Homo sapiens: one gene and its partners. The protein of the gene in region 3 purifies or fractionates together with the protein of the main gene of each other region. This does not show direct contact. Each region holds a gene or a part of one and is shown on either strand. Other genes may lie near its edges. The genes, in order: RFWD3, SMARCAL1, PRIMPOL and CLSPN.

Region 1 (7,417 bases), on a different chromosome or scaffold from region 3:
AGGCACAGTGGCTCAGTCCTGTTGTCCTGATGCATGAGGAGGTAAGGCCAGGCATTCAAGACCAGTTTGGGCAACATAGGAAGCCTTCATCTATATAACAAAAAAAAATTTTTTTTTTTAGTTTAAAAACTAGGTGGTAGTTTTCAAACTGATACAATGGAATTAAAGATAGGAAACATGAAAAGAACATAGGTGCTTAATAAATATTTGTTGAATACGCTAACATGATGGAATTAGAGATGGAAAACAAAAATAATGAAAGGGATAGGATAAAGTTTGCTCAGCCTTTTTGGAAACATTAGGTAAGTTTCCATTTTGAGTTAGTAACAGTTAATTTTGCAAGTGTAAAAAATGTCCTTTCTCTATTTATCCCTTGTAACTGTTGATGCTGTGAAAGATTAATATTGCCTGCTAAAATTAGATACTGCATTATATGCATTTGATTTTGGTGAATGTCCATATTCAGCTTGAGAGAACTGCAAAGTGTCTGAGAGATTACTTTTAGACCCAGTAGTTTAATCTCCTTGGTTTATAGATCTTTCTATTTTGGAAGATACTACTATGATCACAGGACTTCATGTTTTCTAAGGGCAAACCGGAAAACTGGTTATAAATGCTTGTTATAGAGAGGAAAGTCCATTACCAAACACTTCTGACTTAAGTAGTTAAAATCTTCTCTTGAAGCTTCTCAGTCTTGCTAAGAATGATATTAAACATAAAATCAGAAAGATTAAATATGATTCTGTCACCTACATAGCATGTTTTATCTATTTTATTAATACTTTTTACAAATACTGTTTCTCTAGTGATGGCTCATGAAGCAATGGAATATGATGTTCAGGTGCAGTTAAATCATGCCGAACAACAGCCAGCTCCTGCTGGCATGGCCAGCAGCCAAGGGGGACCAGCCCTCCTCCAGCCTGTTCCTGCTGATGTGGTCAGCAGCCAGGGGGTACCATCCATCCTCCAGCCAGCTCCTGCTGAGGTGATCAGCAGCCAAGCGACACCACCCCTGCTCCAGCCTGCTCCGCAACTGTCTGTTGACCTGACAGAAGTGGAGGTCTTGGGAGAAGACACTGTGGAGAACATCAATCCAAGAACTTCAGAACAACATAGGCAGGGATCTGATGGTAATCACACCATCCCAGCATCTTCGTTGCATTCAATGACCAACTTCATCAGCGGACTGCAGAGACTTCATGGCATGCTGGAATTCCTGAGACCTTCATCTTCAAACCACAGTGTAGGGCCAATGAGAACAAGAAGGAGGGTATCTGCTTCACGGAGGGCAAGAGCCGGAGGGTCTCAGAGGACAGACAGTGCCAGGTAAATAAATATATGGATAAGTCTGTGATCATTGCTGTACTAGAAATTATGAAACTGAGGCTCTGCCATTCAAGGACTGACAGTGTGACTTTTGGCAAGTCAGGTAACTTCTGACCCCCAGTTCCTCATAGGTGGAAATAAAAGTGCTTGCCTTACTTCACAAAGTAATGAAGGGATAAGTTAAACTGTTGTGCCTTGAAAACTAGGTGGTAGTTTGTTGGCAATCTCTGTAGAGATTGGCTGTTGTTCAGATTGTGTCTTGTACACCAAAAATTCTTTCTTCACTTGCAAGTCTCTACTCACCCAAATTCATTATTCACTGGCATTCCACCTGGGGGCACAATTAATTAATTTTCTTTCATAGTCTTGGTTTGAACTTGCCTCTTGAAGGGCTTAGCTGTCAAGTCTTGACAGGGTTATTATGAAGAATAACAATTGCCTATACCCTGTCCGTTTTTTGGTTTTTTGTTTTTGTTTTTGAGACAGCGTCTCACTCTGTCGTCCAGGCTGGATTCCCGTGGCACAATCTTTGCTCACTGCAACCTCCATCTCCCAGATTCAAGCGATTCTCCTGCCTCAGCTTCCCCAGTACCTGGCATTACAGGCGCGTGCCACCACACCTAACTAATTAAACCTGTCTGTTTTTGGTTTTGTTTTGTTTTGAGATGGAGTCTCACTCTGTCGCCCAGGCTGGAGCGCAGTGGTGCGATCTCCGCTCAGAGAGGGCTTTGTTCAGGGTCTCATAACTATAGAATAGAGGAGTTAGCACTGATATTGGAGCCTGGATCTGCCCTGTTTTCTACATAGGCAGATGGAGGAAGCTTCGACGAAATCCCTTTGTTTTCTCTTTCTTCTTGTTTTTATTATTGTTATTTTTGAGACAGGGTCTCACTGTGCTCCCCAGGCTGGAGTGCAGTGGTGCAATCACAGCTCACTGCAGCCTCGACCTCCCCAGGCTTAGGCGATCTTCCTACCTCAGCCTCTTGATGATTAACTGGGACTACAGGCATACGCAACCATGCCGATGTTTTCTAACACTGTGAAAATATTGAGATGATACTAAAAAGTGGTAGCTAGGTCATCTATTACCCATGTTTTACAAATGAGGAAGCTGATGGGATAATTTGTGATTTGGTTGTGATAAGGCTGGAATTGGAATTGTGCCTTCTGTATCTGGATTCAGCATTCTTTTTCATGGATCCTGCTGATTTTAATGTTGGGGCTTGCCATGACTGTGGCTCCAGTGTCTGTAGTGCCCATCAAGGATGACAGATGCCTAGTTCTGTGTTGACAAGAGTTGCAAATGCATATTACTCTGGGTTTTTTTTTTGTTTTTAAGACAAGAGTCTTGCTCTGTCACTCAGGCTGGAGTGCAGTGGCGCAGTATCAGCTCACCAGGACCTCTGGCTCCCGGGTTCAAGCGATTCTTGTGCCTCAGCCTCCTAAGTAGCTGGGATTGCAGGCGTGCACCAGCAGGCTTGGCTATAGTCTGTTGTTTTAAGATGTCATTACTCACGTTATAAAGGCAGGGTAAGATTTCATACATTTGTGTTATAGGTGAAGGCACCTTATGGTGTAATTTGGGGACCCTCCCAAAGTAAATGGGCTAACTTTCCATGGTTGAGAGTTGTGAGTGGTGTTTCCAGGAGCTGGCTGACTGTCAGGAGGCCTCTTGCAAGTCCTCAGTCTTGCTTATCCATGCACTCATTCTTGTTGGGGGACGCAGAGTGGATTCCTCTTGGTCAAGCACAGTGACTTGTATTAACCAACTTAAGGGTGACACTTATAAACCAGATGCCAACTTACAAAGAAAAACAGAACCACTAGAGAGCCAAACAGAAGCCAAACTCTAGTGAGAAAATTGCTTGATGTGGCTGGGCATAGTGGCTCACGCCTGTAATCTCAGAACTTTGAGCGGCCAAGGCAGGCGGATCCCTTTAGGCCAGGAGTTCGAGGCCAACATGGTGAAACCCCATCTCTACTAAAAATACAAAAAATTAGCCGGGCGTGGTGGCACACACCTGTGGTCCCAGCTACTTGGGAGGTTAAGGCATGAGAATTCCTTGAACCTAGGAGGCGGAGCTTGCAGTGAGCCAAGATCTTGTCACTGTAATCCAGCCTGGGTGACAAGAGTGACTCTCTGTCTCAAAAAAAAAAAAAAAAAATTATAGAATCTGCTCAGGGAATGAGTTATACAGAATTTAAATGTTGAAAGATGTCAGTCAAGCTATTTGGCAGCCATAATCTGTCTCCACAAAGGGAATAACCTAAACGGTCAGGAAGTGTGCAGTTCAGTGGAAATTACATCAGTTCTGGAGCCAGGTAAATGTGATTAAAACTTTTTTCCCTGAAGTATGACCTTTCCCAGGACTAATCGCTTATAACTTCTGAATTTCTTGAGATGAATTTCTCAGTGTGGTGTTTGACATTTACTCATCTGACAGACTGTCCCTGGGCCAGGTGTTGAAAGCCTGGGCCAAGGTGAACAGCTTTTGACTCACAGTCAGCCAAGAAGCCAAAGCTATGGAAAGCTAAGTAGTGAGCTTATTCTTCCCAACAGGCTTAGCTGAGGTCACAAACTCCTTTCTGATTTGTTTGGGGCGGTTTCATTCTGGCAGTGGGGGTCATCACTCATTCATCAAATATTGATAACACTCCTCTGTGTGAGAGACTAAACTTTGCCCTAGATATATTGGTGAATAACACAGATCACAATATTGTTTTCCTGGAGCATACGGAGTCTAGGACTACAGAGAGTAGGGAAGGAGCAAAATTCAAAGTTGGTAAGTGCAGGGAAGGAGGAGAATTTCTTGGGTTCTAAATCTGTGCTCCCAAAGAGAAACCCTAGCACTGCTTCCTGTTGGTTTTCACAGTTCCCCTTTCCTGTGTTCTTGCCTGACTTTGGAAATTCTTTGCTACATAAAAGCAATATTAAAGAGTGATTTTTTTTAATCGTCTATCACTTTTTTACTGGGTTCTATGTAGAATTCTATTGATATACGTGTCAACACCCTAACTCTAGTATGTATTTGATTAAATCTTCTTATGAAATGCTTTTCTTATGTGTTTAGTCTCATGGTAGCTATAGCTGCTGTTCACTTAGAATCTCAAGAAATGGAGTTGGTAAACTTGCTTAGCACTGTCTAAAAAGAAAACCTGGCTAGGCGCAGTGGCTCACACCTGTAATCGCAGCATTTTGGGAGGCTGAGGCAGGCGAATCACCTGAGGTCACGAGTTCGAGACCAGCCTGGCCAACATGGTGAAACCCTGTCTACTAAAAATACAAAAATTAGTCGGGTGTGGTGGCGGGTGCCCATAATCCCAGCTGCTCAGGAGACTGAGGCAGGAGAATCGCTTGAACCCGGGAGGTGGATGTTGCAGTGAGCCGAGATTGCGCCACTACACTCCAGCCTGGGCCGCAGAGCGAGACTCCGTCTCAAAAAAAAAAAAAAAGAAAAAGAAAACCTGGGTGATGTCAGTGAAAATGGCAGAGTAAGGACCACAGAGAATTATCTCCATGGAAGTAGTGAAACAACTGGCAGAATTTGTCAGGATCAACTTTTTCATAATTCAGGAAACTGACCAAATGCTTATAGCAATCCAGGGAGTGATTATTAAAGAAAAACAGCCGAATCTCATTGAGCTCTATGGCATTCCTTATTCTTGTCACCTTCTCCAGCTCCTTGATAGTTGTGAAAAGCATCTGCCTGTAATCATAGTAAAAACCAACAGCCTGGCAGGCACCAGAGGGATTGGAGCACCTTCAAAGCCTCATTCCCAGAGAATTATCTTTATATGACCTGTTGGTGGTTCTCTGGAAAACCCCATTTGCAAGACTACTCTTGACTCTGAGCAATGCAGAGTGTGAAAAGCCTAAATCATTTTCCCTGGGGCCTGCCTGAGGTAATGGATATTCAGTGGGATAAGCAATAAACTAACCAATAAGAAGGAAAGGAAAATCTAGGAATGAGATCAATTCAGTCACATCTTCTAAGTCTAGTTCTCTTGCTGTTTCTAGCACATCTGCAGTTACTTTCTTAACTGAAGTCTTGAGCCCGGCAAAAGTCATCCATAAGAGTTGACATCAACTTCTTCTAAATTCCTGATAATGTTGATATTTTGGCCTCCTCCCATGAATCATGAATGTTCTTAGGGGCATCAAGGATGGTGGATCCCCAAGGCACAGTGGCTCATGCCTATAATCCCAGCACTTTGGGGGGCTGAAGCAGGCAGATTGCCTGAGCTCAGGAGTTCAAGACCAACCTGGCCAACATGTTGAAACCTTGTCTCTACAAAAAAATACAAAAATTAGCTGGGCATGGTGTGCATGCCTGTAGTCCCAGCTACTTAGGAGGTTGGGGTGAAAGGTTCCAATGAGCCAATATCATGCCACTGCACTCCAGCCTGGGTGACAGAGCCAGACCCTGTCTCCAAAAAGAAAAAAAAAGAATGGTGGATCATTTCAAGGTTTTCAATTTACTTTGTCCAGATCCATTAGAGGAATCACTGGCAGCTATCATCTTAAGAAATTAAAAAAAATAAAATAAAAAAAGCTTTTCCCCACAGCTAAGAGTCACAACAAAATATTTCTTTTCTTTTCTTTTTTTTTTTTTTTTTTTTTTTGGCAAGACAAGGTCTCACTCTGTTGCCCAGGCTGGAGTACAGTGGTGTGATCATGGCTCACTGCAGCCTCAACCTCCCCGGGCTCAGGTGATCCTCGATCCTCCTGCCTCAGCCTACAGAGTAGCTGGGACTAAAGGCACAAGCCGCCACACCCAGCTAATTTTTTCTGTTTTTTGTAGAGATGTTATTTCATTAAAGTACTGAGATTACAGGTGTGAGCCACTGTGTCTGGCCTTATTTCTTAAATAATAAGTCTTGAAAGTTGGGCTGCAGAATATGTTATATTAACAGACATGAAAATAACATTAATCACCTTCAGAGCTCTTGGTTTACTGGGTGCATTGTCAATGAGCAGTAATATATTTAAAGGAATCCTTTTTTCTGAATAGTAGGTTTCAACAGTGGGCATAAGTTGTAAGACATACTCTAAACAGATAAGCTGTTATCCAGGCTTTGTAGTTCCATTTAGAGAGCACAGACATAGGCCGGGTGTGGTGGCTCACGCCTGTAATCCCAGCACTTTGGGAGGCCGAGGTGGGCAGATCACGAGGTCAGGAGATGGGTGAGACCATCCTGGCTAACACGGTGAAACCCCGTCTCCACTAAAAATACAACAAATTAGCCAGGCGCCACTGCACTGCAGCCTGGGTGACAGAGCGAGACTCCATCTCAAAAAAAAAGAGAGAGAGCACAGACAGAATAAATTTAGCATAATTTTCAAGCACCCTAGGATTTTCAGAACAGTAAAAGAGCATCGGCTTCAGCTGGGCATGGTGGCTCATGCCTGTAATCCCAGGACTTTGGGAGGCCGAGGCGGGCGAATCACGAGGTCAGGAGATCGAGACCATCCTGGCTAACAGGGTGAAACCTCATCTCTACTAAAAATACAAAAAAAAAAAAAATTAGCCAGGCGTGGTGGCGGGTGCCTGTAGTCCCAGCTACTCGGGAGGCTGAGGCAGGAGAATGGCGTGAACCCGGGAGGCAGAGCTTGCAGTGAGCCGAGATCACGCCACTGCACTCTAACCTGGGCGACAAAGTGAGACTCTGTCTCAAAAAAAAAGAGCATCGGCTTCAACTGAAGTCACCAGCAGCATTATCCCCTAACAAGAGAGTCAGCCTGTCCTTTGAGCCTTGAAGCCAGGCATTGACTTCTCTGTAGCTGCAAAAGTCCTACGTGGCATCTTCCAATAGAGGGGTGTTTCATCTACACTGAGAATCTTTTTAGTGTAGATACTTTCATCAATTGTCTTAGCTAGATATTCTGGATAACTTGGTACAGTTTCAATGTCAGCGCTTGCTGCTGCTTCATGCACTTTATGGAGACAGTATCTTTTCTTAAACCTCATGAACCAGCCTCTGCTTTCTTCCAACTTCCTGCAGCTTCCTCACTTCTCAGCTTTCACAGAATTAAAGAGAGTTGGGGCCTTCCTCTGGATTAGGGATTCACTTAAGGGAATGTTGTGGCTGG
Region 2 (7,417 bases), on a different chromosome or scaffold from region 3:
CACCCAAGATCTCACTTCCTCCAAAGCCTTTCTCTACTAAGGGTCAGTTAAGGTATAATTCAACTTCTAAATCTCTATTTTTAAATTTATTTTTATTTTTATAATTTTTTAAGAGATGGGATCTCACTAAATGTTGCCCAGGCTGGTCTCGAACTCCTGAGCTCAAATGATCTGCCCACCTCAGCTACCCAAAATGTTGGGATTACAGGTGTGAGCCACCATGTGCCCAGCCCCCCAACTTCCAAATCTCTGTGTTCAGCCATGGCTTATACCTAATTTTCAAAGTAGTTGAAAAAACATACACACATTTAACATATTCATAAGTAGATATGTGTACCTATTCTGATTACCTTAAATTACAAATAATCAAAATACCCACCAACTGCATCTATACATTGATGACAATGGTGTAGTGTTAAAACCATGCCCAGTGGATACAACCACAACACACGATCACTATCACCCCTCTGCCGATTTTTCCTACATCTAAATTTCCAACTTTGACCATTTTTCAATTTAGAGGTATATTTTCCATATCTCCACTGACATCCCACAGTTTCATAAAACTAAACTGGTTTAAAATCAAATGATCTTTTGGCTGGGCTCAGTGGCTCTCACCTGTAATCCCAGCACTTTAGGAGGCCGAGGCGGATGGATCGCCTGAGGTCAGGAGTTCGAGACCAGCCTGGCCAACGTGGTGAAACCCCATCTCTACTAAAAATACAAAAAATTAGCCAGACATGGTGGTGCGTGCCTGTAGTCCCAGCTATTTGGGAGGCTGAGGCACAAGAATCGCTTGAACCCACAAGGCAGAGGTTGCAGTGAGCCATCATCACGCCACTGCACTCCAGCCTGGGTGACAGAGTGAGACTCTGTCTCAAAAAAAAAATAAATACATAAAAATAAGGCTGCTGCAAGGGCTCACGCCTGTAATCCCAGCACTTTGGGAGGCCGAGGCGGGGGGATCATCTAAGCTCAGGAATTAGAGACCAGCCTGGGCAACATGGCAAAACCCCATCTCTATCAAAAATACAGAAAATTGGCCGGGTGTTGGCAGCATGCGCCTGTAGTTCCAGCTACTCGGGAGGCTGAGATGGGGGGAATCACTTGAGCCTGGGAGGCGGAGGTTGCAGTGAGCCAGCATAGTGCCACTGTACTCCAGCCTGGGTGACAGAGTGAGACCCTGTCTCTAAATAAATAAATAAATAAATAAATATAAAAAATCAAATGATCTCTCATCTCCTATATTCTCAAAGCAGCTTCTCTTCCCATAAGTCTAGTTTTTATAGTCTACCTGCATTCTCGTAGTCTCCCAGGTGGAAATCATCCAGGCAAACAGAGTCCTCGGCTTATGCAAGTTTGTTCCCCCCATTAGTTCCCTCCTCTCTCCTTCAGGCACCATCTTTACTTGGGCCACATCACTTGGTACTGCATGGATTTGCAACAGCTCAACTGCGCTTCCTGCCTCAGGCTTCTTCCCATTTCAAACAGCCTACAGATCTTTGCCAGCTGATTTTTACCCCCAGGCTCTCCTTTAAAGATTTTTTTGGTCATGTCTTTGGGCTCCGCTGTCCCTACCTCATCAAGTCTACAGTTGCTCCCCTGGCTTTTCAGGCCTTTATAGAATTAGGTCTCAACGTACCTGGCCACTGTTCCTCACTATTCCTTAACCAAATCCCTCCACATTGGTGAAGTAGAGTTCCTTGAAAATTGATCATGACAGCCTGTCATGTAAGAACTCCAGATTATTCAATTAACCTGCACCCGAAATCTCCTAGCCTTTCAGGATCCCAGCCTTGCAGAGAGGGAAATGATATGAAAGATCATCAAGGCTGACCCCCAAATAACCCACATGTCCTCCTCCAGGATGCCCTCATCAGCCTCTTTCTGAATGACTGCAATGTCAAGGAAACGCCACCCTGCAAGGCAGCCTATTCCAAGTAGAAAAAGCTGCTAATGTGCATTTGATTATGATGATGGCAACACTGTATGCTGACTCGGGGCATGCATAATTAATTGGAAGCGAGTTCCAAGATCAGATTAATATTTCATTTCCCCTCTCAGAAGGAAGGCTATCTCAGTGAGATATAACCTCTTCTGCTTTTGTCTCCTATATTGGAAGCAACATTTTCTTTTTCTAGTAGTTGATAAAATTTTCAGCCCCATCTTAATTAAAAAATAAATTGATATAGTTATTGATCAAAATATTGATAAAACTCATTTATATTACCTTGTACTTATATTTTAGGTAGAAATGCTTAACCAATTTAGAGTAAGAGAAAGGCAAGGAGGAATAAATGAGTTCAAGTGAGAATCCTTTAAAAATAGGCTTTCTTTTTTTTCTTTTTTGAGACAAGGTCTGTCTCTGTTGCCTAGGCTGAAATGCAGTGGTGTGATCTTGGCCCACTGCAACCTCTGCCTCCCAGGTTCAGGGAATCCTCCTGCCTCAGTCTCCTGAGTAGCTGGGAATACAGGCATGTGCCATCATGCCTGGCTAATTTTTGTATTTTTTGTAGAGATGGGGGTTTCACCATGTTGCCCAGGCTGGTCTCAAACTCCTGGGCTCAAGTCATCTGTCCGCCTCAGTGTGGGATTAGAGGCTTGAGCCACTATGCCTGCTCAGACTATTTCTTTTCAAAAGGCTTGTAATAACCTAGGCTCTGTTACCATTTACCATTCAGCTGAACTGGAGAGTTCTTTAAAAAGCTTAAAAATAAGGTTGTTTTAAAATTGGCTTATTAACTATATATGTCTGAAAGGATAATTTGCAGTCTGCATTTAAAAATATGATCTGAGTCTTATTTATCCCAATATTTAGCAAATAAATCCTTGCAAAGAAAGAATTTATTTGCTAAATAAATGTAAGTGAATGAGCAGATCCACAGAGTCTTAAGTCTTGGTGTCAACGATAAGATTTAACTCAACTTCTTATTTATTTAAACTTTTTTCTTTCTCTTTTTTTTTTTTTGAGGCAGGCTCTTGCTCTGTTGCCCAGTTTAGAGTACAGTGACCATCATGGCTAACTACAGCCTTGACCTCCTAGGCTCAAGTGATCCTCACCTTTTCCTCTGGAGTAGCTGGGACTACAGGTGTGCACCACCATGTGTGGCCTAACTCAATATTCTGATGGTGATTTCACAGGAAGGAGGAGGTGCTTCACTTTCCTGATAAGCTACCGTAAGGCCCCTTTCTGCATGAGGCTCAGACCTGGTTCAAACTCTCCTGGCAGAAACAATTCAACCATGAGCTGTGCTCGAGGAGGGCATACTCCTGGTTTTCACCTTCTGGCCAACAATCCAAGCTGGGGAAGGAAAACAAGCTTTTGGAAGGCTCTGGGTCTCTTGCTCACTCCACTGTGTTTCACTGAAATGGGGGAGGAAGAGTCTGTGGCAGCCACTGGGCTGCAGCACTGAAACCAGGCAGGCATGATGGGCCCAGGGCTGTCCTGTTCAGAGGCAACAGCCTTCCCCCTCAGCACCTTTGACAAGGCCTGCCTGGTCATGGAGGGATGCCTCTTATACTCCTTTACAACAAGGGCTGAGCTCAAAGGAGGAATGCTGGGCCAAGTCAGGAAGCCTTCTTCCTTGGGCTGGCTTCACATGCCCTGTGACTTTGTGCAAACCTACTATACTGCCATGTCTCAGTTTACCCCTCTATCAAGTGGGGAGACACTGAGAATAAATAAAATGACAGAAGGGAAAATATATTCTATGAAGCCAGTACCCTATTTTAAACACTCCCCATTCTGTGCTGGGGATGCATTCCTGTGGCAGCCCTATGTGTGGTGTTGCTGTGTACTTTTTGAAACAATTCAACATTTGCCATGGGGAGTTTTGTCAGTTTCTAATGGCCTGCTGGAAGAGGCAGCATTCAGAGCCTGTGCGGGAATGTCAGCAGCTGTAGGAGCTAATGCCATCATTTCCCCATAAAGCGATGCATGCATGGTTCAACTGAGAATGACTGCAGGCCATTGTTTTCAGCTCTAGGCTGGGGGAGGTCCCTAGGAGTGATTCACATCCTCCTACTCAGGACCCAAAGACTTGGCAGACAGCTTAATGCCTCCCTCTGCTCCAGGGGTGAAGAGCCATGTGCTGGCATTACCTTGTAGAGGTAATCAGTGGATTCTGTCATTTCTGAAAAATTGGTCTCAGAAAGCCCGGCTTCTGCCAGAACTTTAATCTTCTCTTGAATCAGGGGCCTGTTGGGGAGAAATGAGCTGCAGTGAATACAACCTGCACAGAACCACCAGACTAATGAAAATGAGGCCACCCTCCTTGTTCTTATGGGACAACGGCTTGTTTACGGTTTCACATCTCTGCATCTCTCAAGGTGCAAACACCCATCTTGAAAAATTTGCCCCCTCTCATTTGTAAAAACTCCAATTTAGGGCTAAGAATATCATCAGGTTCAATATTCTTTCTAATGGAAGATGTGTAGGAAATAAATGCTGCCTCATTTCAACACAATTTTGAATCTGGTGGTATTATGAGCTGCCCAATTAACAAATCCACTAAAAAGGGGGAAGTAGGAGTGACCCACACACATTGCAAAGGGAAGACTCCTTAGTCATAAGGCTGGAAACAGAGACAAGCAGTGGAAACAAATGAGATAATCAAGAAATTTTGTATCAGGAAGGGGGAGATAAGGGGAAGAAGCTTTTTGAGATTTTTCACTTAGGTAACAGACAGAAAACCCTAGGGTTGAAAATCTTACTCCAGCTCTGCTAACGAAGTACACTACACAGTCCAGGGTAAGCCACTTTCTCCCTGTGGTCCAGCAGCAGCAATGTAAGATGTGCCCACCAGATAAATGCACATCATAAAAGGTAAAAGACTGTCACCCTGTCCTAACAAATGCCTTCACAGCTGGGAACAGGGTGTTTTACAAACTAAATTCCATCTATATTTTGTCATAATCAGCACTTCTCCCTGCCTCAGACCAGCAGCAAAAGGAGCCACAACCCCTTATTGCTATAAGATTCAGCATGCACCCTGCAAGCCACCAGTGAACGCTAGTGAGGGAGGCCAAATATGGTCATGATGAAAGCAGGAGGGCATCACTAGTCAATTTTCTATAGATCCTTAAAGACCTTACTTAGCAAAAGCAGAAGCACTTTGGGAGCAAAGTAAACATATCATCAGTTTCCACCCTTGCTCGACTCCAACTGCCAGGCCACCCAACCAAGCCATACCAAAGGTAGTCATCAGCTGTGCCCTTTGCCACGAGGTAGTGAATGCCCACGGAGCTGGTCTGTCCAATGCGGTGCACGCGGTCCTCAGCCTGGATCAGCACCTGTGTGTCCAGGAATTGAGACAGGCAGGTAAAGGCCTGAAGCAGTTCCATCCACCATAGCAGGTATGGTTCCTCTCCACCCCATTTCCAGTCCCACCACAACCCTCCCTCCTCAAAGCACTTCACTGTCTCAGACCTAGAAATAACCTGCACTTTACCATCTCAGACCTACAAATGACCTGCCACTTTAACAAAAGAGAGAACCCAAAACAGCCCTGGCTGGGGAACTGGAATCTGAAGCAGAAGATCTGCAGGTGGCTGTTCAGTGCTGGGCACTGAGCTAGGTGCTGCAAATGAAGAGGCACAGGCTCTGCCATCAGGCTGCATGGGGAGGGGCTGGTGATGGAGGCCTGCACACTTCCATTTCTTCACTGTATGAAATAAAAAGTTATCTTCTAAATAAATAAAAACATCACACACAAGGGAGAGGCTATCCATGATTTGGGCATAGGGTGGTGGTTTAATATAGTGGTAAGCCTTATAATAAATACTTAAGGGCTGGATGTGGTGGCTCACGCCTGTAATCCCAGCACTTTGGGAGGCTGAGGCAGGCAGATTGCTTGAGCCCAGGAGTTCCAGAACAGCTTGAGCAACATGGTGAAACCCCATCTCTACAAAAAATACAAAAATTAGGCATGGAGGCGTGCACCTGTAGTCCCCTGCTACTCAGGAGGCTGAGGTGGGAGGATCACCTGAGCTCGGGAAATCAAGGCTGCAGTGAGCCAGTAAGTCCCTGCAGTCCAGCCTGGGTGACAGAGCAAGACCCTGTCTCAAAAAAGCAAAAGAAAAAAAAAACCACCTAACATCATGAGCATTATTTCTTGTATAAAATGGCTACACCCTCAAGGTCTACCCATTATTAATGTAGTCTCTTATGTGTAGCCAATAAAAACCACAATATTATTAAATATTATATAAATATTAAAGGGGATATAACTTTTCTGGAGATTACCAGAAAAATTTAAGAGTTCAAACAAATGTCTTATCTCTGTCCTCAGTTGGTCAGGTGAGGCCAGTGGTGGTGTCCAGGAAACCCTCACTGCTGTCACTCTGTGTGAGGTCCATTGTTAAAGCAGCTCACAATGATGGCTACTAAAGGGGGCACAGGCTGGAACGTGAGGCCTGGGCTGCAACCTGGTGCCACCAAGTGCCCTCTTCAGTTATGGCAGTGCAGTCCTGCCTCACCCCTTGAGCTCTCGGTGCCCTAACTTCCTCCTATGAGACATGAAGTCAAGATTCCTTCTAGCCCTGGAAGACTTCAACCTTCCCGTTGATAAAATGGAGTCGATAATCCTACAGGTTGCTGTGAAAATCTAGAAAACAGCCAATCGCCTGGCGTGGTGGCTCACACCTGTAATCCTAGCTACTCGGGAGGCTGAGGCAGGGGAATCGCTTGAACCCAGGAGGCGGAGGTTGCAGTGAGCCAAGATCATGCCACTGCACTCCAGCCTGGGTGATAAGAGACTCTGTCTCAAAAAAAGAAAAAAAGAGACTAGTCAATCAACATAGAAGTGCTTAAAGGAAGTGAAAACTGACTTGTGGGAAGTATAATGAATGGATAAAAGGGAAACCACACTTTCCCCGACCGACACTCACTGCTTCCTGCCCACAGCCATGAGCATGCCTGGGGAGTATCTGAGTCTTCTGCGTCTCTTACCCCTGGGTTCCAAAACAGCTCAGCAAACACCACCAGGTCAGCCGAGGAGAAGGTGAGGCCCATATTGGCAGCGGTGATGGACAGCACGGCCACAGCATGCCTCTCCGACAGTTGGAACTGCTGGCACAGGTCCTCCCGCTCAGCTGATGAGGTGGAGCCATCGATGCGGATGTGCTGCACGTGCTGCAGGAACAAGGGGCAGAAGCAAGGTGGGCAACAGCCCCGGGGGCTTCTCAGCAAACCACACCCAGCCACAGCTCCAGCACAGAACCAGGTTCCAGCTCAGCAGAGGCCCCTGCCTTCAGAGCTTTTCTTTTCAAATTGACATTGGTATTGAGATGACTGCTTATACTCAGGTGCCATTGTAAGAAATAATAGAGATCCCTCTTAGGCCTTTGCCCAGTTTCCTGCAGTGGTAACATTCTATAAAAACTATAGTATAATACCACAGCCAGGATGCTGACTTCT
Region 3 (7,417 bases):
ATAGAAACTTTCGGCTATATAAATCATCAAAAATTGGAAAGCGTGTGGCTTTGGAGGTTACTGAAGATAACAAATTTTTTCCTATACAGTCAAAAGATGTTTCTGACGAATATCAATATTTTCTCTCTTCTTTGGTCAGCAATGTCAGGTATGTAGTAGCAGCATCAAACCATTTTGTATTCATGAATATTTATTAAACAGTGAATGGCATTGTATATTACTAAAATGTAAATCATCTAAATTCATTCTACCTTAAGAAAATGTCAGTTCTTACAGCTCTTTTTTTTTTTTTTTTTTTTGATACAGAGTCTCCCTCTGTCACCCAGACTGGAGTGCAGTGGCGCTATCTAGGCTCAGTGCAAGCTCTGCCTCCCGGGTTCATGCCATTCTCCTGCCTCAGTCTCCCAAGTAGCTGGGACTACAGGCGCCTGCCACCACACCCGGCTAATTTTTGTATTTTTAGTAGAGATGGGGTTTCACCATGTTAGCCAGGCTTGTCTCGAACTCCTGACCTCAGGTGATCTGCCGACCTCAGCCTCCCAAAGTGCTAGGATTACAGGTGTGAGCCACCGCGCCCAGCCAGTTCTTACAGTTCTAAGTTAACTTTTCTCTTTTCTCCATTAGCTAAAAGATAATAGTAAAACGTATATTTGAACACTTAATTTTCTCTATATATCTTTTTAGGATTATATTTAGTGTATTTTCCAATTTTTCTAAAATGATTATCACTTCTGTAAAGAAGAAAACAATACTACTGGTATTGCATTTGGAAATATTTTACTATTAAAATGTCTCATTTTCTTTTCATGTATGCACATACATATAATTTGTATAGCTCCTTTAATCAAAAAATATTCTGAGATTATTATTTAAATGATTGTCATTTGTTTTTTCTACTTGATTTTATGAATATTTGTTAAGAATTTGCCAACAATTAATTGTAAATAAAACTTCTAATGCCTATGTAAATTTCCATTATATTGACACTGGAATTTATTGTGAGTTCTATTGTTGAGCCTTTAGGTTCCCATGTTTTGATCATTTTTTAAAAGTGTTAATGTTGGCTAGGCACAGTAGCATGTGCCTGTAGTCCCAGCTACCCAGGAGGCTGAGGTAGGAGGATCACTTGAGCCCAGGAGTTCAAAGCTGCAGTGAGCTATGAATGCACCACTGCACTCCAGCCTGGGTGACAGGGTGAGACCCCATTGCTAAAAACTAAAATAAATAAATAAATAAAAATAAAATCTGTGAAAGTCATCTTTCAACAGAAATACTATAGTAAGTCTTCATTTGATGTTGATAAGTTATTGGAAACTGAACTTTAAATAATGTGTGATGAATCCAGTTGTTTTTCTCATCCATGTTAGAAGGTAGTGGTCCCTGAGTCACAGACCAGTGGTCTGTGGTGGGAACTGGACCCCACAGCAGGAGGTGAGCAGTAGGCGAGCGAGCGAGCAATACCACCTTCCCACCTCAGCTCCGCCTCCTGCCAGATCTGCAGTGGCATTAGATTCTTATAGGAGTGCAAATCCTGCTGTGAACAGCACATGGGAGGGATCTAGGTTGCACACTCCTTATGAGAATCTAATGCCTGATGATCTGAGGTGGAACAGTTTCAGCCTGAAACCAGCCCACCTTGCCCCTGCCCCACCCATGGAAAGATTGTCTTCCAGGAAACCGGTTCCTGGTGCCAGAAAGGTTGGGGACTGCCGTTATAAGGAAATGATGTTGAACAAAACAACATTATTCAAAGACCTGCTAGATGTCATTTCTCTTAGAGTTGCAGTTTCCAAGAATCTATCCATGGCCTTAAGTGAGGACTTAACTGTATTTGCCTTCATTCCCTGTTTTTCTAGGCTGGCAACTTTTTCAGCCCAAAACATGGTTAAGGTTCAGACTAAATTACCATCAACTTGCCATAATTCTTTTCCTTTTGCCTTTCTAAATATAATTTTTTTTTTGAGACAGTCTTGCTCTGTGGCCTAGGCTGGAGTGCAGTGGTGCGATCTCAGCTTACTGCAACCTCTGCCTCACAGGTTCAAGCGATTCTCCTGCCTCAGCCTCCCAAGTAGCTGGGACTACAGGTGTGTGCCACCACACCCAGATAATTTTTGTATTTTTAGTAGAGATGGGGTTTCCCCATGTTGGGGGGGCCGGTCTCAAACTCCTGACCTCATGTGATCTGCCCACCTTGGCCTCCCAAAGTGCTGGGATTACAGGCGTGAGCCACCGTGCCCGGCCACTTAAATATAATTTTAAGGAAAGATTCTCTAGAAATTAATTTTAGTAATTGTCTAAAATACATTGCTGTAGGTATCAGGTTGTACAGTTAACAGCCGTTACCCAGGAGGGTGGAAGATGGATTGTTTTTCTTCATATATATATATAAGTATATTTGTACTCTTTGAGTTCTTTAATAACATGTCTCAGAAGTAAGGTCTGAGTTTCCTACTTTTAAATGGAAGTGATACTAACACCTATCTTACGGAGTTGTCGAGAGGATTTAAAAAGTTAAAACTGCACATAAAACATTTACAGCTGTGCCCAGCCCATGACATCTGCTCAGTGAATGTTGTTGGTAGCAGTAGTAGATCCGGGATTCTGAAGTGCAAAGTGCCGTAGCAGGAGTGTAAAAATTGTGTAATTCCTGCCACACCCTATTGGCACCAGAATAAGGTCACATTCTTTCTGCCACGTATGGAGAAGTGTGAAAAGCAACATTGTTAGTTCTAGCTCATATGGGAAAAGCAACTACAGCCCGAAGTGCAGGTAATCTCCCGATTACCCAATCTCGTTTCTTTCGCAGTTTAAATATGAATCTTACAGAGGTGGAGGGTTCTTCTACTGAATACAGTTACCTTGTCTTTTGTGTATTCCAAGTAAATACCAGGTAGTTTACTTCTTGAAATAAAGGCTAAATCCTTTATGGTTATGAATGTACCTTTTCTTTCCGTTAATTTTAATCTGTTTTTCCCCTTTGCTCTCACCCCTCCTTCTTTCTTCATTTCTTCCTATAAGTCACACCTCTAAAATTGTTGTAACAAAAAATTCAAAGGCTCTTTGTGTTTGGTGAATAGAGTTATATAGTCGTCTCCTGGTGTCTGTGGGTGATTATTATTCCAAGGTCCCTGTGGATACAAAAATCTGCAGATATAAAAGGATGTACTATTTTCACGTAACCCACACGCATCCTCCCTATATAATACTGTAAATCCTTCTAGATTACCTATACCTAATATAGTGCACATGCTATATAGTTGTTATACTATATTGTTTTTAATTTGTATTATTTTTATTATTTTTATTGTTTTTTTATTTTTATTTTCACTTATTTACTTATTTTTTTGAGATGGAATCTCACTCTGTCTCCCAGGCTGGAGTGCAGTGGTGCAATCTCAGCTCACTGCAACCTCTGCCTCCTGGGTTCAAGCAGTTCTTCTGCCTCAGCCTCCCATGTAGCTGGAATTACAGGCGTTTGCCACCATGCCCAGCTAATTTTTGTATTTTTAGTAGACAGGGGTTTCACTATGTTGGCCAGGCTGGTCTCAAACTCCTGACCTCAAGTGATCGGCCCATCTCAGCCTCCCAAAGTCCTGGGATTATAGGCGTGAGCCACTGCATCTGGCCTATTTTTATTGTTTTTTAAAAAACATACTTTTGATCTGCTGTTGGTTGAATCTGCAGATAAGAAACCATGGACACAGGGCTTCAGCAGTCCTAGAGTCCCCTGATCCATTCTGTAATTAAGGATAGTATTATAAGTAATCACCAACCTACTCTTTTAAAAAAATTATTTTCTTTAATTGACAAATCATATTTTTTTTATATGTGTAGGGTTTGTGGTTTTGTGGGCAAATGTGGCATAAATGTCCTAGAACAATTATCTGCTGAACAAAGGATTTTAATGAGGAACTATTAGGAATTCAGTGTCCTTTCTGTAGCCAGGCCTTGTTAGTTCCAGTGTGATGGTGCTTTGTTTCTTTTACCTATTTCTTCTTCAGGTTCTCAGATACTTTACGAATTCTTACATGTGAGCCATCTCAGAATAAACAAAAAGGAGTTGGATATTTTAACAGTATCGGCACTTCAGGTAAATTTTTTGATGTTTGTTTTTCTTTTTGAGACAGCATCTCTCATTGTCACCCAGGCTGGAGTGCAGTGGTGCGATCTCGGCTCACTGCAGCCTCCTCCTCCCAGGCTCAAGCCATCTCCTGCCTCAGCCTCCGGAGTAGTTGGGTTTACAGGTGTGCACCATCACGCCCAGATAATTTTTGCATTTTTAGTAGAGATGAGATTTCACCATGTTGCCCAGGCTGGTCTCAAACTCCTGGGCTCAAACGATCTGTCTGCCTCAGCCTCCCAAAATGCTGGGGTTACAGGTGCAAGCCACTGCACCCAGCTACTTCAGGTAATTTTTAAAAAATAATTTCCTATCAAAATGTAAGGGTACAGAATCTGTTTTGCCTTTAAAATCTTCAGTGTTAAGTGTTCATAATCACTGACCTTTCAAAAACTACCTCTAGCCAAGCACAGGGGCTCACACCTGTAATTCCAGCACTTTGGGAGGCTGAGGCGGGAGGATCACTTGAGCCCAGGAGTTAGAGACAATCCTGAGCAACTTAGCAAAACCCTATCTCTACAAAAAATCCAAAAATTAGCCAGGAATTGTGGTGCATGCCTGTAGTCCCAGCCACTCAGGAGGCTAAGGCAGGAGGATCTCTTGAGGCCAGGAGGTTGAAGCTACAGTGAGTCTTGTTGGTGCCATTGCACTCCAGCCTGGACAGCAGAATCAGACCCTGTCTCAACCAGTCAATTAATCAATTAATCAATCAGTAATCTACTTCAGGTTTTCTATCTCAAATGGAAAAAGTATGAGAAAGATGTTTATTAAGAAGTATTATTCACTGGGCGTGGTGGCTCATGCCTCTAATCCCAGCACTTTGGGAGGCTGAGTCGGGCAGATAACCTGAGTTCAGGAGTTTGAGAACAGCCTGGCCAACATGGTGAAACCACTAAAAATATAAAAATTAGCAGGGCATGGTGGCGGGTGCCTGTAATCCGAGCTACTCAGGAGACTGAGGAGGAGAATCACTTGAACCTGGGAGGCGGAGGTTGCAGTGAGCTGAGATTGTGCCATTGCACTCCAGCATGCGCAACAAGAGTGAGACTCCATCTCAAAAAAAAAAAAAAAGTATTATTCACTAATTTCACTAATTTTCATTTTATGGTGTTTTTCAAAAAACTACAAAAATAATGTAGGTTAACAAAATGAAAATGTAAAGTTCTTTTTCACTCTTCTGTCCATGATCAAAGGCAGGTAACCACTGCAATCATTTGCTATTTAACCTAGAAGAGCGTTTCCTATATTTCCTATATATAGAGAGAGATCTTCCTCAGTCTTTTAATGGTTGTATAGTTTTTCATGGTATAGCTCTGTCATAACTTACCCATTCCTCTACTGAAGAACATAGAGTGTTTTTTTCAAAGATTTCTTACATAAGCCCTCCAGTAAACATTTTTATACACATATTTTCATATATTGTTATTTATAATAGCAAAAAACTGACAGCAATCTAAATGTACAACAAAATTGAATTGGTTATATACTATGAAATCCTCTAGCTGTTAAATTTAAATTTGTGAAGCCTGTATAATGTGGAAAACACCCATTTGTGATGTTAAAAGAAAAACTAGTCTCTAAAATTATGTGTATGGTATGATTACAAGCTTTAAAATATGGATAAATTTTCTTATGTTTATTTTCTTGTCTTATATGTATTTATAGACATTGATTTAGAGTCTGCCTCTCACATTTCCACATTAATATATTTTTCAATATTTCTCCAATTATATATATTATTTTAGTAAGTGAAACATAAACTTCATTTAAAGCAAACTAGATTCTTGTCCTTAAAAATTAAATGATACTGGCTGGGTACGGTGGCTCACGCCTGTAATCCCAGCACTTTGGGAGGCCAAGGCAGGCGGATCATGAGGTCAGGAGTTCAAGACCAGCCTGACCAATGCAGTGAAACCCCGTCTCTACTAAAAATACAAAAATTAGCAAGGCGTGGTGTTGCACGCCTGTAATCCCAGCTACTCAGGAGGCTGAGGCAGGAGAATCGCTTGAACCCAGAAGGCCGAGCTTGCAGTGAGCCGAGATCGCGCCACTGCACTCCAGCCTGGGCAACAGAGCAAGACTCTGTCTCAAGAAAAAAAAAAAATTAAATGATATTTAAAATAGGTCATTCTAAATTACTACAGTAGCTTTTTAGATAGAAAATATAATTGTATTGTCAGTACCTTCCAGCTAAAGGTCTCAGGGCACACACCTGTAGCAGGTCAGCTGAGTGTATTGCCAGGAAAGCAATGGTGAGCACACACCATGGGAAACTTCAGTAAAGTGGGGCATCTTGGGAAGAGGAGGTTGGAAAGGACCGGGAGGATTGGATTTGGGCTTGGAATGGGTGGCTTGGGGGAGTATACCAGGAAGTTTGGGGTTTGTTCTGAGTTGGGTGTTGTTAGGGACAATTCTAGGACTGGTTTTCTTAGTAAAGCTTAACTGAAAGGAAATCAGAATAGAAATTAACACTGTACTTTGTTAAAAAAAACAAACAAAAAAACCAGCAGTTGCTTCTGTTAGCTGGGATCGGGGGTGTTGGTCATGTTTGTGGTTTGGAAGATGTTCCTGTTTTGCCTGTGTTGGGACATGATTACAGAGTGGTTATCTTTGTGCCTTGAGTCCTCATGACCACAGGGGCCTTATCTGTTGTTGAAGTTCTGTGAGATTGCCTGTGTTCACAGGAGAATGCCCGGCTGAGGTAGGCGTGCCAGGCTAGTGCATGGCAACACCAAGACCTGGCTGATGGAGCTAGGCCTGTTATGGACGTGAGGGACTGCCTTTCTCTTTGCCAAAATGAAGACAGCAGTTGAAATTATTTCAAACGCTTTTTATGAAATTAGTTAACATTTGACCTAATTGAGAGGTTTGAATCTTACCTGCTTCCTTGTAGTGTCACAAACATGAATTGACTGAAATTGCAAAGAGTGAGGGAAGGCTGAGAGATTGCAAAACCCGTAATTGTGCTCAACAACATTTAATCAAAATTTAACTTCTCAACTTTCAGCTATTGTAATTTATAAACCATTCTCTCTGTTGCAGTAGAAACCATTGAAGGTTTTCAGTGTTCTCCCTATCCTGAAGTTGATCATTTTGTTCTTTCTTTGGTGAATAAAGATGGCATTAAAGGAGGTAAAGTTAATCTCATCCTTTGTTAACTGTTATATGATAGAGTGATAGTAGCTTTAGAAACATTATTTGCATTTTAGGAATTCGGCGTTGGAACTACTTTTTCCCAGAAGAATTACTGGTTTATGATATTTGTAAATATCGGTGGTGTGAAAACATTGGAAGAGC
Region 4 (7,417 bases), on a different chromosome or scaffold from region 3:
ATTTCCTACACCAGTTAAAAGCTGAATCTCAAACCAGAAAGCAAAAGATTCAAACTTTAGGCTTGTGTTAATCTAAAGAGGGAGGGAAAAGTTTTGTGAAAGAATAAAATGTTACTCAGAAGGTAAAGTGTAAAGGATAACTTTTAGCTTCAGATGATGCTAGAGCAGGGCTTGGCATTATGTCCTGTAATGTGCCACCAGTCTGTGAATTCTCAACCTTACCCAACAATAATAACATAGCAGGATGGATACAGGGAAATTTGATGACCTTACAATACAAGATCTATGCATTTCAAATAAGACAGAAATTGAAGGACCAGAATGTTAGCAAGAGCTATTTATGTTTATTTTCTGGACAGACTTTGTTCAAACTTATAGAATGTAATACTAATGGTCTGTACACCTTCTCTTTCTCAGAAGAGAAAGCACAGATGGAGTGACAGAAGCTCACTTATTTTTAAACAAAATTAAGCAGTACCCAGCACCATTCCCGCCCACAGAAACACAAAACTACCTACCCATCTGCATCCAACAGTTGGCTCTGAGTGTCATCTTCTAAACAGAACTGGAAGTCTCCTGCTCCTAGGAAAAGTGTCTTAGGCTCTGGGGAGGCGTTATACAGATCCTGGGAATCCTCTATGGGAAGTGAAGGCTCAGACAGTTTCCCTGAACTCTGGCACACAAACAAAAACAAACAATAACAAAACATTTTACAAATGTCAGTCATTGTCATGACAACCACAAAAGTTGCTATTTGCAATATTTAAGCTACTCTCAGGAAATTGTAGTTGAGGGGGACAATACACAGCCATGAGAAGCATAAAGAAAAATACCTCCAAGAAAGTAAGAATACTGGATGAAGCTTGTTTTTAATACACAAAGGGGGTGGATTTTTTAAACTGAACACACATAAGCTCAGTACCAACGTGGTGGGAGTTGGTTGGCTGGGACAAACTTTATTTAGCAATGTGGGAAGCAAAGAGAGGAGGAGATTAGAAAAACCATTACCATCTTACCTTAGAAGCTGAGCTGACCAAACTGGCTCGAAATAGCCCAGGGGAAGGAGATCTGAATCCTCCTGCTGTAGGGAAAAAACTGGTCCCACGGCCTGTTTGTCTGTTGCAAGGCTGATAGGATGGAATCGTGGAGCCAATCAGCTCAAAGCTGCTATTGTGGCTGCTCTCCTTTGTTAGCAATGAACATGAATCATCCTCATCTAAAGAAAGAGAAACACCTTTTAAGCACATGATTACAGAAATAAGGTGGATTTGTTTAGGAAAAAGAGTTGAGGATGAAACTGTCAGATAAAATTCATAGGCAAACCCCTCAAGTTATATGTTCCAAAACATTAAGTTAAAGGTAAATTACAGTACTAAGATAGCATTATATAATCAGGGCTTATTACTCTGAGCTAAGTGACACTTGAAAGTTCTTTTTTTTTTTTTTTTTTTTTTTTTGAGACAGTCTCGCTCTGTCACCCCAGCTGGAGTGTAGTGGCGTGAATTCGGCTCACTGCAACCTCCGCCTCCCAGGTTCAAGCGATTCTCCTGCCTCACCCTCCCAAGTAGCTGGGACTACAGGCGCGTGCCACCACACCTGGCTAATTTTTTATATTTTTAGTAGAGACAGGGTTTCACCATGTTAGCCAGGCTGGTCTCGATCTCCTGACCTCATGATCCGCCTGCCTCAGCCTCCCAAAGTGCTGGGATTACAGGCGTGAGTCACTGCGCCTGGCCGAAAGTTCTCTTCTTTCTCTTATCCTTCCTAATGCCTATGATCACACTCTTCATTGTCCAATCAATTATACGTCTTCCTTTGATCTACATACAGAAACATTTCATTGCTCACTCAATCAACACACATTCACTAAGGACATTATGTACCATGGTCTACTATAAATAAACTGCAAAAAATAGACCAAGAAAAATATTCTAATTCATAAACCCTTTTCATAGCTACATATGAAACTGGGAAGTGACCAGATTTAAAAACATGGAAACTTACCGTACTGCAGTCCTTAAATATCAAAGCTGAGGGACAAAAGAAATGTTAAGTTCTGCACAAGAATCACTACTTACCCAGTTTGCTAGGCTGCTTGCCTGAGTTTTCATCTGTTTCTGATTTTTCTTCAGTAGGAAAGTAACTGCAAAATAAGAAAGTAAATTGGTTCAGTATCTGTTCCTAGTTTTTACAGGAGGGGCAAATCCAAGGCAATTTTAAGTTTTCTTAGAGAGAATCACTTACCCCATCTTGGAAGAGCTGTCCTTAAACAGAAGTAAAGTAGAATCTGATGAGAGAGACTTGGGAACAGAGAGGAAGCCAACTGCCTTGCCAATTTCACTACTGCCATCATTATTTTCTTTATCCATTTCTTTTTCATCTTTTGTTTCTATTTCTTCACTACTAAGAAGGAATTCTGCAGTCTTTACCAATCAGGCCACCACAAAACAAAAAATACAAGTCAAAACATTTAAAAGCAAATACACTGGTAGCCTGAAATATGGCTGATTGGTTACAGATCACATCTTAAATTCAAAAAGGTAAACTTGAAGGAAGTTCCATATGACCATTATCAACATAATTTTCCCTGACACTTCTAGAACTTTTTTCTATTTTTTTTTTTTACCTTCTACCCTCCCGAAATTGCTAAGATTATAAAGGACGACTGGATTATCATTTTATTGAGGCAGTAAGAGGTTAATTAATCAGTCTAAGATTGCAGGCTGACTACTGATCTCAAACCAAGCACAGACTGAGACAGGCTGTATAGCTCAGCCATTGCTTTCTTTCTCCTTTACCCAAAATTAAATAATAACTCAAGTTGCTGGGCATGGTGGCTCATGCCTGTAATCCCAGCACTTTGGGAGGCCACAACGATGGGAGGATCACTTGAGGCCAGGAGTTCGAGACCAGTCTGGTCAACATAGTGAGACCCTCATCTCAAAAAAATTTAAATAAATAAATAAAATAAAATAAAATAAAGTGATCCCAGCATACAAAAAGGAAAGTTTTTTTTTTTTTTTCTTTTTTTGAGATGCAGTCTTGCTCTGTCGCTCAGGCTAGAGTATAGTGGCACAATCTTGGCTCACTGCAACCTTCACTGCCCAAGTTCAAGCAATTCTCCTGCCTGAGTAGCTGGGATTACAGGTGTGTGCCACCACACACAGCTAATTTTTGTATTTTTAGTAGAGATGGATTTTCACGATGTTGGCTAGGCTGTTCTCAAACTCCTGACCTCAGGTGATCCACCTACCTCAGCCTTCCAAAGTGCTAGGATTACAGGCATGAGCCACCCTGCCCGGCCCAAAAAGGAAAGTTTTTTAATACTTAACAATCGTATCATCACCTGTTTTCCCTAGGCAGAAAACAGTACTACGGAACAAGGGCAAGAGGCCCTTCTACAAATGCCTTCTTCTACAAAGAACGAAAATAACTCAGAAAGGCCTCTACCTCCCTAAGAATTTACTCCAGGCCTCAATCTAGCCAAGGTTAGGACTGCTTTTTAATCTGCTAGAGAAACCTAAATAAACAACAAAGATAAAATTTCCTACGAATACAAAGCCATTTTTAATATTAGCATTATTATATTAAAATATATAAACAGGTGGAAGCCCAGGCAATGGTATTCTGTCAGTACCACTGAATATCTGTATTCAGATATATAATGATGATCTACAGATATTCAGTGGTACTGACAGAACTGAAGTTCCTAAGATTTAGGGATATATGAGGTAGTTACCCTCATCATGCCCCTAAAACCTCTTATACAATTGAACATGCTTATTATACTCTTTTTCAAGTCTGACTTTTTCTCTCATATTCACCATGACAAGGTAACAAAACAACGTAATTGCCAGAAACCTCCTGATTTCCTTCTTCTTCCTCCTCCTCTTCTTTCTCCTCCTCTTCCTCTAGTTCTTCCTCTTTCTCTTCTTTCTCTACCTTCTCTTCTCCATCTTCCTCAGACTCATCTGTCATTTCTTCCTCTTCCTCCTCCTCTTCCTCAAACCCATCTTCATTATCTAATTTAAACAGTGCTTGGCGCTTCTGGCGCTCCTCAAACCTTCGGAGTTTCATTGCTTCTTGCAGTTTAGCTTTTAACACCTGAAGCTTTTCACCTGAACAGAAATATGTAGAAATGCTTTAGACATAATACAATAATTAGGTATGCATTTTAGGCAACTCCAGAAATATTCTAGTCACATCCCAAAAGGAAAATCTGAGACTCTAGTATTCTGGGCTTTTTTGTTATTTGAACACAAGAGTATTATTATGAATTGAAGTATCAAAGAGAACTTCTGCACCCTAGATAGTATACTACTCAGGGATTATAAAATAATTGTTCAAAAGAGAGAAAAGGTGGGTAGGGAGTAGAGCTTCAAGTCTGTGGCTCAAAAGCCATGAAGAAAAACATTGATAAATTTACCTATATTAAAGAAAAAGAGAAACGACTCGAGTAAAATGAGCTAATGATATGAACTGGCAGTTCACGAAAAATAAACATATATTGTTAATAAATTAAAAGTAATGCTTAATCTCACTTCTAATTGAAGAGCTACAAATCAAAATAACGAGATACATTTTCGACATGTTAGCCTGGCAAAAATTAGAAGGTTTGATAATACCTATTGAGAGGAAACAGGAACTCATACACTGTGATTCAGAGTGGTACAACCATTCTGAAAGACAACTGGATGATATATATCAAAATGTGATATATATCATGACAATTCCACTGTAAGGAATTTTCATCTAATATACCACCATATATCTGGCACTATAATATAACACTGTATGCAATAGCAACAACTGGAACAAACAAGACATCTGTCAATACGAGTATGGTTTAATGAGTCATGTTGTATTCATTCAATGGAATATTATGCAGCCATTTTAAAAAAAGCCTCAAGGCCGGGCGCAGTGACTCACGCCTGTAATCCCAGCACTTTGCGGGGCCAAGGTGGGCAGATCACGAGGTCAGGAGTTCGAGACCAGCCTGGCCAACATAGCGAAACTTCATCTCTACTAAAAATACAAAAATTAGCCAGGCATGGTGGCAGGCACCTGTAATCCCAGCTATTCGGGAGGCTGAGGCAGGAGAATCACTTGAACCCAGGAGGTAGAGGTTGCAGTGAGCTAAGATCGTGCCATTGCACTCCAGCCAGGGTGACAGTGCAGGACTCTGTCTTAGAGGAAAAAAAAAAAAAAAAAAAAAAGCCTCAAAAGCAATATAAAGTAGATCTGAGCTCTGGAGTTAGGTGGTCTGGATTAGACTACTGGTCCTACCATTTATTAGCTGTGTAAACTTGAGCAAGTGTCTTAAGTGCTCTGCATATCAGTTTCTTCATATACAAAATAAGGATACTAATGTTATTTACCTCATAGGGTTGTAAGGATTAAATGAGATAAAACATATAAAGCACCTAGAGCAATGCCTGACAGGGAGTAAATGTTCAATGTCACACACATTCACAAAATACGGTATATGGATAAAAATACTCCTATAAAGACATACAAGAAATTGTTAATAGTTATCTTTGGGAAGACTAGTTTTTCATTTGATACCTTTTTTCAGTGTTTAAAACTGTTTTCCATGTGATATATTACTTGTGATTTCAAGGGAGGGGTGAGAGCTGTCCTTAATACATTTCTAAAACACAAAGCAGAATGCATGTTATGATCACATTATAGGTGGGTTGTTTTGTTTTGGGTTTTTTGTTTTGAGACAGGGTCTCACTCTCTCGCCTAGGCTGGAGTGCAGTGCCACAATCATGACTCATTACAACCTCAACCTCCTGGCTCAAATGATCCTCCTGTCTCAGCCTCCCAAGTATCTGGGGCCACAGGTGCAGGCCACCATGCCTGGATAATTTTTTTTTTTTGGTAGAGATGAGGGCTCACTATGTTGCCCAGGCTGGTCTCCAACTCCTGAGCTCAACAGATCCTCCTGCCTTGTCCTTCCAAAGTGCTAGGATTACAGGCATGTGCCACTGCACCCAGCCTGTTTTTGTTTAAATTACATATACATATGTGCAAAGAAGAGAGTTTAAAAGGATACACGATATGGTTATAGAACCTGTCTCTGATAGAAGATTAAGTTTTTCATTTATTCTATATATTTGTCTATAATGGGGTTTTTTATAATAAGACAAATGATATCTAAAAAAAAAATAAAGCCAGCTTGTCCACCCCACACCTCTAGGTGTGCTACACGTGAATCATGCCAGAGATACTGCTCTGCAAAGCCTCCAAGGAAAAAGATTCTATAACTTTTCATTATAAGGTTTTCAATAGCCTTGAAGATCTGTTAGAATACAAAGCAAAAAGCAAAAAACAAAACCTGTGGGCTCAAATACCTGGTTTTGTGTGGCTTGCTCCATCCAACTTCTTAGGTGCTAAAGTCACAGGTACCACATCTGCTTTTAGCTCTTCCTTTCCATCAGTGCCCATGTCTTTCACTATGACGTTCACATTCACTGTCTGACCAGCCCTGGGTTTGGCTGCTGGATTAGCATGCTTCCAGAAACGCTGCTTCAAGGCTTCCAGTTCTAAACCCAAACGCCAACCAGTGTGTCAGTTTGCCATGCTCAAAACTCTTTCCTTTAAGACTTATAAGCTAAGTTTTTTTTAGCTCAACAATTATGAGGGAAACCACACATACACAGAGAAACCAAAAACCCCTTGCTACTAACTCCTGAGTCAAATTCATACAACTTAACCCAAACTAATTGACTGCCACAACTGTTCTTCCTCAACGTTTCAAAAATCAGACTTTAAAAAATCAGACAGAAATTTATACCTGAAATTTCTAAATATGTGCAATTCTTTTGAACATTCTTTAAAAATTCTTTAAAAGTATTAAACTGGTAGGAAAAAAGATTATAATCTCATCTATTCAAGGGCTTAATTTTTCATGGGTTTTGGTCTCCTTTTAAAATTCCCTATTTGTTATTGCTGTTTTTTGTTTTTGTTTTGAGATGCAGTCTCACTCTATTGCCCAGGCTGGAGTGCAGTGATGTGATCTCAGCTCACTGCAACCTCCATCTCCAGGGTTCAAGCGATTCTCCTGCCTCAGTCTCCTGAGTAGCTGAGGTTACAGGTGAGCACCACCATGCCCAGCTAATTTTTTTGTATTTTTAGTAGAGACAGGGTTTCACCATGTTAGCCAGGCTGGTCTCGAACTCCTGACCTCAAATGATCAGCCCACCTTGGCCTCCCAAAGTGCTGGGATCAAATTCCCTATTTTGAATGTTTCATTATTGGCAATCTTACTAAATATAGGCAAAGTCAATTTTTTTCAAGAAGGGAAAATAAAATGACAATCCAGTCAGTGATATAACTAAGCAGCAGGACTGTAAAAAGTTTTTTGGTGAAAACTGTTACACTAGTACAATTGGTACAATGAGAAAGAAAATAC

Evidence for each region.
Region 1: the proteins of PRIMPOL (region 3) and RFWD3 purify together in Homo sapiens (affinity purification with mass spectrometry; one large-scale study listed by BioGRID and IntAct). This does not show direct contact.
Region 2: the proteins of PRIMPOL (region 3) and SMARCAL1 purify together in Homo sapiens (affinity purification with mass spectrometry; one large-scale study listed by BioGRID and IntAct). This does not show direct contact.
Region 4: the proteins of PRIMPOL (region 3) and CLSPN purify together in Homo sapiens (affinity purification with mass spectrometry; one large-scale study listed by BioGRID and IntAct). This does not show direct contact.

The regions. Positions count from the first base shown.
Region 1 is NC_000016.10:74,654,841-74,662,257, reverse strand, and holds part of RFWD3 (E3 ubiquitin-protein ligase RFWD3), read left to right. Parts: exon of another isoform or gene 1-302; intron 303-804; exon of another isoform or gene 805-806; 5' UTR 807-808; coding exon 809-1,326; intron 1,327-7,417. UniProt on the Homo sapiens protein: E3 ubiquitin-protein ligase required for the repair of DNA interstrand cross-links (ICL) in response to DNA damage. Plays a key role in RPA-mediated DNA damage signaling and repair.
Region 2 is NC_000002.12:216,474,984-216,482,400, reverse strand, and holds part of SMARCAL1 (SWI/SNF-related matrix-associated actin-dependent regulator of chromatin subfamily A-like protein 1), read right to left. Parts: intron 7,133-7,417; coding exon 6,950-7,132; intron 5,293-6,949; coding exon 5,192-5,292; intron 4,199-5,191; coding exon 4,102-4,198; intron 1-4,101. UniProt on the Homo sapiens protein: ATP-dependent annealing helicase that binds selectively to fork DNA relative to ssDNA or dsDNA and catalyzes the rewinding of the stably unwound DNA. Rewinds single-stranded DNA bubbles that are stably bound by replication protein A (RPA).
Region 3 is NC_000004.12:184,678,247-184,685,663, forward strand, and holds part of PRIMPOL (DNA-directed primase/polymerase protein), read left to right. Parts: coding exon 1-148; intron 149-4,001; coding exon 4,002-4,090; intron 4,091-7,162; coding exon 7,163-7,252; intron 7,253-7,329; coding exon 7,330-7,417. UniProt on the Homo sapiens protein: DNA primase and DNA polymerase required to tolerate replication-stalling lesions by bypassing them.
Region 4 is NC_000001.11:35,747,389-35,754,805, forward strand, and holds part of CLSPN (claspin), read right to left. Parts: intron 6,549-7,417; coding exon 6,357-6,548; intron 4,119-6,356; coding exon 3,862-4,118; intron 2,424-3,861; coding exon 2,245-2,423; intron 2,144-2,244; coding exon 2,079-2,143; intron 1,217-2,078; coding exon 1,017-1,216; intron 674-1,016; coding exon 519-673; intron 1-518.